Linked DNA regions of Homo sapiens: region 1 is linked to region 2. The links come from fine-mapping of genetic effects on gene expression. A gene starts in region 2. The other region holds a variant in brackets. All regions are shown on one strand. Distances are from middle to middle.

Region 1 (5,384 bases), 45 kb after region 2:
CTGATATACAGCAAGTGCTCCTAACCCTGGTTTTACTAAAGCAAGCCGCATGTCATAGAACCATATGAAGTTGGATCTCAACCCTAGTGGGGACGATGACAGGGGGGTGAGGGGTGACAAATTACCTGTCGGGTACAATGTACACTATTTGGGTGATGAGTACACCAAAAGCCCAGAATTCCCACTATACAATTTACCCCGTGACCAAAAAACACTCGTACGCTTAAATCTATTGGAATTTTTTTAAAATAATAAAGTAAAACAAAAACAAATCTGAAAAAATTGGATCTCAGAATATGCCTCCAGTTTATTAGTTTTATGTCTTCTGCACATATTTTGGGGGGAAGAATCAATTTTTTGTTAGATTATTAAGTGGGATGGGTTTTATTTTAATATGCTTCCATGAGATATCTTTAGGTAAATGGAGAAAAAATAGGCTGTATTCTAGAAATATAGTCTGTTCTACTATAATGCTTGTTTCTAAAATACAACTCTGTTTCAATGTGATTGATATGTTAAGAAAGAAGTTGATCATAACACTAATTTGCTTATGCACAATACTGTCCACTAGGTGAACACAGAAAACTGCATTCACCTGAATAAAAACGTGTAGAAATACACACACATAGATACACTTCAAACATCTACCAGCTAGCTTGATTCAATGCATGTGTGATAAGCTGAACCTACCTTCTCTGGTGTTACAACTTTCCATCCAACTCCAAATAACCTTTCTTCTGCCACTTCACAATAATGCACAAGTTGCAGCCCTTCCAATGCCCAGTTATACAAGGAAATTCAGTTTTTCTCCAGGTAAAGTGCCAAATTTACTATAGATTTTGTTTTTTAAATTAACCATTTAATATGGGTAAAACTGTGCTGCCATTTTTATCAGCCCACTACTTTTTTTTTTTTCTTTTTTTGTTTTGTTTAGATGGAGTCTCACTCCTTCGCCCGGGCTGGAGTGCAGTGGTGCGATCTTGGCTTACTGCAAGCTCTGAACAGGCTCCTACTTTTTAAATATATGTCACTGACAGTTTTTGAGTGTTGGGCCCCTAGCCCCATTTCTCCCATATACCCTGTCTTTCTTACTGCATGATTTGTCTAATGCAGTACATTTTAGGAATATATCTGTTACAGCAGAAATGAAGATACCTTGAATAAACACTGTCTTCTCCCTGGGTTGATGTCCTCATCCACTGTTTTCTGTGGCTCTTAGCCCAGCCCTCTGAGAGCTTGTTCTTTACCTCTTATCCTCCTTAGCCATATCTGAAGTAGTTGCATGTGTGCTATGCCTCCTCAGACACTGCTCAGCTTTATCAGCCTATTTCCTGCTAAAGGGGATGATATTGCAACAAAAAATCCAGAACACCAGGGTCATGGGATGATATGACAGTTCCAGCCTATGTGACAGACCCACCATGTGGATAGGAAGGCATATTCCATTAGAATAAAAAGAAGAAAGCATACCAGGCAGACAACAACATTAATTAAAATAGTCACGAAGGCACGAGTGTGTCTCCTGACCCAGAATAAGAGGCAACTCTCATTATTGAGCCTCTTTGAAACCTTCTGGCTATCCTGGAATGGATTAGAATGAGTGATCTCATTTGTCTGTCAATACAGCCCCTTTCCCTAACCTCATGCCAACTCAGCTAGACCTGCATTGGGCTTGCTTATTCACACACCCAAACTCATGAACCTTTGTTAAAGAAGCCAGTGGAATTTGAGAAATTCACTTTTCTTCTGAACCATTCTGCTCCTGGAAATGCAGGTCAGAGTGTTTTTCATTAAAAATGCCACTGGTAATAAGTTCATTCACCCATAAACTTTCCTATTATTTTGTAATTTTTTTAAAAAAATCTCAATTGTTATGTATTCCTTATTACACCCTAAGCATTTGAGATTACAAATTTCTAATATAAAGACATTGTATATGAATAAAAACAGGAAGGTCGCATTGCCTTGTAAACCTGACGTACTAAAGGAAAATAACATGACATTTTACAACCAAGAATTTAGAAAGAAAAAAAACCTGAAATCTTTATTTTTTTCACAACATTTAAAGGACAATGGTTCAAATTATATTGAGAAATATAAAAATTTTGGAGAAAGGAAATTCACATCTATAAGCACATCATGTGGGAAGACTTTGTAATAAGAGTGCTTTGGAAATATTGCACTAGAAATGAGTAAAATAAATGAATGTTTAATGGTATCAGGCAATGGCAAGATATGTTCATCTCCATAAAGAGCCACACAGCTCTGGCATGAGGCAAGCAATGCCTTGAGGTCAGAGTACCTTTTGCCTGGGAAGTTCTTAGATGAGTAACAGCGAGGAAACTAACAGGTTAAGAGAAAATAATTGCCTTTCCTAAGACGATCCAAATAGTGTTCAAGTCTTCAAACCTTGTTTTGATGCTCTTTCCAGCATACCATACTGTTTGGTGCTCTTATCAATATACCCTGGTGTCTCCATACCCATACTGTGTAGAAGAAGAAACCTTGGACCTTGTTTATAGAGGAAGACTCCATACAGGCAAGGTTGGGATCCCTTGAAGAGTGTCACTGTGTAAGTATTATGGGTTAAATTGTGCCCTCTCCCCAAAAAATACATGTAAATTTTAACCTCTGGCACTGCAGTGAATATGACCCTGTTTGGAAATAGGGTCTTAGTAGTGTCATCAAGTTATAATGAGGTCATTTGGGCAGGTCCTAATTCAATATGACTGGCGTCCTTATAAGAAGAGAAGACACAGACACACAGGAGGAAGACAGCCATGTGACGACGGAGGCAGAGATTGGAACAATGTATCTACAAGCTGAGGAATGCCAAGGATTGCTGGCAAACATCAGAGCCTAGGAAGAGGGAATGAAGGAGTTTCCTACAGATTTTAGAGGAAGCATCGCCTAGCCAATACCTTCCTTCCTGAACTGCAAGACATGAATTTCTGTTGCTTTTAGCTTGGTTGAGGTTCTTTGTTACGTGACACATTACTATAGTATTTTTGTTTCAAAACAGGCATTGGACCCTGGCACAAGAAGCTGTGGCAGACACTGTTAGTTACCTAGATAAAATCCATACCTGTTCCATTGCATCTCTTCCCTGCTAAAAAATCCTGCTTTCGTTCAGACATTGAAAA[C/A]CCATTTGCCTACTTCTGGCCCCACACAGAAGGTAAAATGTAAATTAACCTAAGTTACTCAGGGTCATCTCATCTCCTTTATCAGTGATGTTTTGTTAAACACTCTTTTTTCCCCTTAGACATTATCATGTGTGACGAGCGGCTTACATGGTGGTTTATGTTGTTCAGCCAGGTTGCTGCTATGAAGGGAAAGTCCACAAGAACCACAGAGAACTCAACCTGAATACCTGACAACACCGAGCCATTGAATTCATCACTCCTATAACTGCCTTATTCTGGGCTTCTTACCACACAATGTAGTATTATACCATAACCTTGTTTAGTTGGATTTTCTGTTACATGTTCCTGAAATCATCCCAGTTGATGGAAATGTGAAGGCAACAGAAAGCCATAGATTTTCCATGTCCTCATTACATTGTCCAGAGGCAGACAGTACCTGGGGGCCTCTCAGTGAGGCTTTACTGTCTCAAAAATGCCCACTGGATTGCATAAATCGACATGGTGTTTCTGCATCTCAGGTTATTCATTTTATGCAAAATATACATGTCAAGATTTTTACATTATTTACTAAATGCAGTGGCACAAGAAATATTCATAATGCATTTTGGATTATAAAAAAATGAAAACATTTAGCTTTTATACCTTTTCCATTATTTGTGTTCCAGAAGCAGCCACTGCAACTTATAATGATTTCTAACAATCATTCTCTCGGTTTTTCAACTCCTTTCCAATTTTCTGCATAGTTCAAAAGTCTAACTGTTATAATACCATGAAATCGTAGACTTGGGAAGGATTAAAAATTTATTTGACCCTCTATCACCCATTTGATATTTGAATTCTCCCTCCAGATCCTCACTGCAAAACCAGAATCTCCTTTCCAGTGACAGGGAACTTACTACTTACTCTATCTTCAGACAGTTTTATGTGTAAAAAGTTCTTTCTTTCTAGGTTAAAAAAAAATCTCTCCTTGTATATATTTTGCAAATGGCCTTAATTCTACCCACAAGGACCACAGAAAAATTTAATTACTCTTTCATGTAATAGCTGTTATCATGTGAAGTCAGCCATATAAGTCAGTTCTTTTCTTTTCAGTCCCCTCAATTCTCGTTTCCAGGACACACACACGTGCACACATACACACACACACACACACACACACTACTCCAAGAATATCTTGACTAGTGCCTTTAATTAGAACTGTCCCCCTTTCTTCATTATTTTAATTTTATTAATGCATTTAATGGTCATTGAAACTTTAGCTATTTACACACTCTGCAGCTAAGCCCATGCCATCTACTAAAATATTTACATTATGTCCACATTGTCCCCATTACATTTCATCTTGAGGGATGTGGTCCATTGATCAGTTATTTATTGCTTTCTGAGTCCTGGGCCAACTATCCACACATTTGCCATTTCAACAAGCCTTATTCTTTTCTTAAATTTGATATTCATCTGAAGGGTGAATTTGATATTTTAGATGAATTTGGTATTCATCTAAATTCATCCTTATTGTTTTTATCGTTAGACGAAACTTGCCTCTCTTCTCCAAATGGAGATGTTTAATCTATGTAAGCTTAAGGGTCCCCACTTGACATTTATCTAAGATTGCTTTTTAAATTCCAGGAAGACTCGAATGATGCAGACTCAAGGCGGACAACGAGGGAGGGAGGTACCTGCTTAGGTTGGCACCTGAACGTATTGGTATCTGCTGAGCCACCTCATGTTCATTGTGACTTTGGTTTTATTAAATGCAGATCCTGCCATATTATTTTTGTTCCTTGCAAAAAGTTCCCTTCAGGTCTGTGCCATGCTGTACCCTGAGCACAAAGGCTTATGCTGTTGCTCCCTTGCCAACTTGGTGATGTCAACCTAAATAACAAAGAGAGCCTCTCTAAAAGAAAACTATATTTATTCAGGAGTAGAACATTGCAATGGGAATACCCATGCCATATTAAACTATGTGCTTTTTCTGGGAGGTAAAGGAAGACAAAAGTTTTTAAACAAAAAATGAGGAGGATCACATAACTGTTTTGAGATAATTATCCTTGGCTACAAAGATCAATAACAAGGGTGATGCCAATTCAAAGTTGGACAGGCAGTTGCTGGAGAGATGTCCTTGCAGAAGGATTTTGTTTTTTTAGTATAAGATTGCAATGACCTTAGTTCAAGGTTATGGTTTTTTGTGGAGTCTTTTGTGATAGCTTTGTTATCGGGCACACAAGCATGAGAACCCCTCCT
Region 2 (5,384 bases):
TTCCTTTACTGAAGACAACTGCCTATGTAGGGTTCTTCCCTATGACATAACATCCATATGCTTATTTTCTTATTCTTAATCAGATAACTGCTTATACAAAAAAAAAATTGTCCTGAGACCCTGTTAAATTAATTCCTGATTATAACATTTTAAATTGTCAGTATAACCCATAAAGAAAACTTTCTGTTTCAAAGGTTTCTGCTCCCCCAACTCTCTTTCTCCCGCTCCATTTATCTCACTTTTTTTTCTCTTTCCGCATCTTTCCCTCACTCTCTGTCTCTCACCACTCACCCTTCCACAGGAGCCTTACTATACAGAGAGACATGAGAGTTTCCATGTACTCAGGTGTTTGCCGTACTGATATATTCCTGCTCCCTCTGCATAAATTTCACATAGAACATTCCAAGGAGCCCCAGCCTCTTTTCACATGTGCCTCCACTCCTTAGTAATTAGAGAAATCTGAAACAAATCATTCATATCTTGGAGTGTATGTTTGATAGCCCACACCATATCCCCTAGACTAAGAAAGAGACTGGTTTTAGAGTACAGTTACTCAATCCTGACAAGCCATTTAGCCATTTACAGAATTAAAGAGACTCCAAGAGGCTGGAGTTTGGAGGTTATACCTGACTAAATTGAGAGGAAGCATGAGATTGAAGGTTACTAGGAGGAAGAGTATACTTGATTTTTTGATTTGCTTTGCTTTTTCTTCTCAGTCTTGTTTTATAAATTTTGAAGCCCTTTTATTTACAACTTCTCTGTAGGAATGGTTGTTGATCTACAAGCTCTTAGAATATAGACAGTGTTAGCTGTGCTTAAGCAGGTTACTCCCTTCAGCCAGGTCAAAACATTACCCAGAGCAGAAAATGCATCATTTCATGACAGCACTTCTGGAAAAGTGGGAAAGGAAAATGGTACACAGAGGAAGTTGCCATCAAAAGCACACAAAGGAAACAGCAAGCAGACAAGGGAATAACCTTTCTTTGAAATAAGGCAAAATGAGATATTTACATTACTTTAAGACATTTAAAGAGAACTTTTACTGGTACAATTTTCCTGAATAAGGGAATCCTTAGAAACTTTGTCATAGAAACATTTCTTTGCAGAATAGGAAAAGAGTTTCAGGACTTCCCCCAGCAGCCCACCACCCGAGATTCAAATAACCTCAAGTTATTTGAGTCAGAGACCAGTTCATGCTTTGAGGAGAGATGTTTAAATCTGTGGGGGCTTTTTGCAACAATATTGTCACAGGTTGGCCTTAGTAAACCTACACATCTTATCAAGCACAATGTCTTCCAGAACATTTTTCCCAGGGAAAAATATCTCAGAAATCAGTCTCAGAAATCAAAAGCCCTGCATTTGCCTACACTAATTAGTTCTAGGAATGGGGGCAGGGGAGGGGGAAGAAGGGAAGTTTCAAGAATGCTACATACAAGACATGATTGTTTGGCTAATCAGTAGAAAGTTGAAAATATTCACCAAAGGGTGTGGGAAGCCTTTCTTTGGAAACAGCATCTCCATTTCATGTCACTGAATTTTAAATGATGTGTACCTATTGCAAAAAGTCTCAAAGCTTTTAATTTTGCCTCTTTCCCTGCCACCAAAAGCTCCTGCCAGTGGGTGAGCCTTTCTGATGGAAAATGAGCAAACGCTTAAATGAATGTGTCTCCTCTTGAACGGCTTTGGAGAATCCAATAGGACCTTCTGCTTTAGACAAGTGTTTGATTTTTAAAGAGGCAGGAACAATAACAACTTACTGTTCTGGAAAGATAATGACCTATCTCAAAGAAGGGTCAAGGAAATAGTAAATAATCTTCAACAGAAAAGGGAAAATCTAGAGAAAGTAGAAAATGGGGATGGTATTACATCCTCCAAATCGCCACCTCCCGCCTAAAGGAGGAGGAAAAAGTCCATACACTCATGAGGACCTCCTCATGTCCCTCTTCATAGGAACCGAGCGCTCCTCTAGGGATTTTCTTGTTCCCAGGAGGTGATCAGAGTTAGGAATTACACTTACTGACCTGGACCTCGCGTTTTTGCGGAGACGCGGAAACAAGATGTGTGCAGTCCGTCTGTCCGATGATTAGCCAGCCGACCTGGAGAGGGCCCTGGAAGGTGCCCAAAGGCAAGTCCGGTTCCGTCCCCTCCTAGGGTCCAGGACAGCCCGCGCCGCGCGGGCGGGCAGCCGGAGCAGTCAGAGCGGCTGGGCGGTTGGCGCTGCCGGGTCTGCTGCCGACCTCTCAGGCCAAGCGCGCCTGGGCACCGCACTCACTCGCGGGGTGGGCGGGTGAAGGTGGGAGGATCAGAGATGGGAGCGTGGGGAGGGGGGCAAACCCCACCCTTAAACACAAGAAAACAGGTGCAGAGGCTGCGGGCGATGGTCCTGCAGGGGAGGGGACTGGAGGAGAAGTTTTGGTGGCGAGGGAGCAGGAACAGTGTCCAGGGTCTCTCAGCCGCCTCCCGGGCTTGCAAGCCCGCTCAGCCAGACCCTACCCAGAGGGGCGCCCCCTCGCGGGTCCCCAGCCACCACCTGCAGCTGCTGCTGTCACCTACTGTGCCACCCCCAAGTTTGATACTCTGGGCGTTTGCGCCACCCCTACCTCCCTTCCCTTCCACGAATCTCTCCCTTTGCTCTCTACCCCCCAGTTCCGCGAGAGCTGGCCCGGCGAAGACAGACCTCCTGGACTTGAGGCCGACTTCACCAAATCCGCCCCGGGAAAAGGCGAGGGCAAAGGCGGGGCGGACAGACCCAGCTGCGGCTGAGGGACTGCGGTCCCTAGCAAGGCAGGCGAGCGAAGGAGACCTCAGGCTGGCGGGAGGAGGGCCGGGGCTGGAGAATCCCCGCGCCTCGTAGGGGCTGAGAAAATTCCACAACTTCCAATCGAGAGTTGTTTTCTTTTGTGTGTGTAGGAGCAGAGATGGGGAGCTGGATCCGCGCAGAACCCCGGAAAAGCGCCAGCAGGATTGCACCGAGAACAAATCCTCCGCACCCTCGCCCAGGGCTGGGGCGCAGTGCGCTGGTGCTCCTCTAGCTGGGCGGTCCCTGTGCTCCAAACGAGAAGGTAAAGCGAGTTCAGATCCTGCTGCCCATGATCAGCAATTTCCCTAACAGGTGTCTGCAGACAGTTTATAAGTTGAGTAGTGCAGATTCAGACTCGATAGCCAGGAACCTGTGTAGTGAGCTCTGGCTCAGGTTAAAAGCTAGGATAGGGATAGGATAGGAAAGCTATGGGACACGAATAAAACACAATCTCTCTCTCTCTCTCTCCAGATAGCTGACTTCCGAATCCTTCACTCTTTGATCCTGACCCAAGCCACTCGTGCCACTAGGAGCGCATGCCTATGGAATACTCGCTCCTGTCTCCTTGTGGTGAAGCCTTCCGCTAATGCCCAGAGCCTCCCAGGCTGGATTAGTGGGTAGGAGCAAAACAGGATAGTGGAGACAATCAGCAGAGCAGCAGCGTCTATTTCCTCGGGATTCCTCCCAGGAACCCTATTCGAAGCCATTCCTTCTAAAAGTTTGCAGCCAGTCTCTCTTTCCTTTGTTGGTTTTAAGAGGAGGCAGTAGAGCTACCTACATACAAAAACGAAAGCCTGATACTGGTAACCTAAGTCTTTACTTAACCATCCTCTTCGGAGGCTTTGCACACATTACTTTTCCTCTATGCATTGTCATTTCTGAAATAAGGATGGTCATACTGGTGTGCTTGGAATTTCTCTGAAATATACTCCTAAAAGATTAGATTAAGATTAGATTCCGCTACTCTAAAATGAAAAAAAATATTTATCTGTTTAAAAAGGTAATACATATTCTCCAAGATGTTAATTAAAGGCTTCCCTCAAATGGATTGGATTTTCAGTTCCTTCAGGGTTTTCCACACCCTAATAGTATTGCATTTGTAAGGCATTTTTACAGTGTAACCTGAAATTAATCTTCAGTTAATATAGAATTATGCCCACAGGAGTATAGGAATTGTTTATAAAACAAAGCAGCCTGGGCTTTTCAAATACCTAGAAACAAAGGTAAACAGAAATGGAAATATTTAACATGTTCTACACAGTTCCACTTAAAGTCTTTTAGTAGTTGTTTTTGTTTTGTTTTGTTTTGTTTGTTTTTTCCTTAAGAAAGTACTCTTTGCCCAAATATGTGTTATATGTGACAGGTTCCATTCTTCTCAATATATCTGCATTGGTGAAGAATGAACCATATACCAATAAGTTATAACTTTAAAAGAGTAGAAATGGATTTAAACAACGACCACAAAAACAAATCAAATATCCAGCAAAACAGATGAGTGTTGTCTTTTAGAGCAATTGCTTTGGAAAATTCAACTGATTTCACTGACATTGATTGCACAAAACACATTTTATCTTCTTTAAAATTGCCTTTCAGAAGCGTATTAGCAGCCATAACCAACTATTTGCCTCACTCTCTTATAGACGTGTGTTTGTCTTAGTAGATTCATATAGTTCCACAGACATCTAGTCAGCAACCTCAAAAGAGTAAATGGTCTCTATGATTAATGTCCTTTAATAAAGTTCAGAATTGGATGAGAAACTGATAAACTGAAATGAAAGTCACTTCATAGTGTATCATATTATCAAGGAGAGCTGTGGGAATTAGCTTATGACACTTTTGTGCATCACAGTCTAATTCATATCCTTAAATGTGCATACATATCCTGTGTATTGTAGTAACAATGAACCACTCTGATGAATGTCCATAAACCCAGTTGTGACACTGACAGGAGTTTGGGAGTTTGTGGAAGTGGTGGTGAAATATCGATTAATCCAAATTGAAATAGGACAAGATTATTGATGCTTGATTTCTTTTGTATCAAATCATTTAGTTGCTCAGGAAATTCCATTTCTAACCAGAATATGTGCTGTGACTGCTCTTCAAATAGACAACAGACTCAAACTCAGATGCCTGCATGGTTAGGGCCAATGACATAAATGGACCAGCATGCTAGGTTGTAGGAGAGAGTGGAAAATGTTGATTGCCATAACACCTTGAAGAGCACAAAAACACATGCTATAGCTAAATGGGGAGATTGCTTCTCAGAGTACACTCAGCTGGCCTGCAAAAATCTTGATTCAGTATTGTCAGATACGATTTTTAAGAGAAGCAAAATCCATATTGTTAAAAATCTTCTGAATTTTAAATAAACCAAATTAATTTTTAAAAATCCAAAACTCCTAGTGGACAGGCCAAAATAAATAAGAAATCATAGATAGATAGATAGATAGATAGATAGATAGATAGATAGATAGATAGATAGCAGCCTGACTCATCATGGGCCTCCAATATTGTAACATGTTATATTAGTATTTGATGTCTGACAAATCTCCTTAGATATTTAAAACATAGTTCTACTACCATT

Alleles and levels. Positions count from the first base shown, and alleles are read on the strand shown. Sizes are in standard deviations (SD) of each study's normalised expression.
As copies of C replace A in region 1, the expression in prefrontal cortex of the gene that starts at base 2,915 in region 2 goes down (large effect, 1.3 SD a copy in ROSMAP).

Evidence for each region. PIP is the estimated chance that this variant, and not a neighbour inherited with it, causes the effect.
Region 1: its variant is the best candidate, but not a certain one, in a credible set for the expression of NPY2R-AS1 in prefrontal cortex (ROSMAP, PIP 0.53).

The regions. Positions count from the first base shown.
Region 1 is chr4:155,161,168-155,166,551 of GRCh38, reverse strand. No RefSeq gene overlaps it. Among named protein-coding and RNA genes, the nearest start is that of NPY2R-AS1, 44 kb to the left of the region's middle. The variant C/A (reference allele first, on the strand shown) is at 3,144.
Region 2 is chr4:155,205,703-155,211,086 of GRCh38, reverse strand. It overlaps NPY2R-AS1 (NPY2R antisense RNA 1), which reads left to right and starts at 2,915. Exons shown (of 2, transcript XR_001741894.2): 1 at 2,915-3,062; 2 at 3,272-5,384. NPY2R (neuropeptide Y receptor Y2) reads right to left here and starts at 2,451. Exons shown (of 2, transcript NM_000910.4): 1 at 2,018-2,451.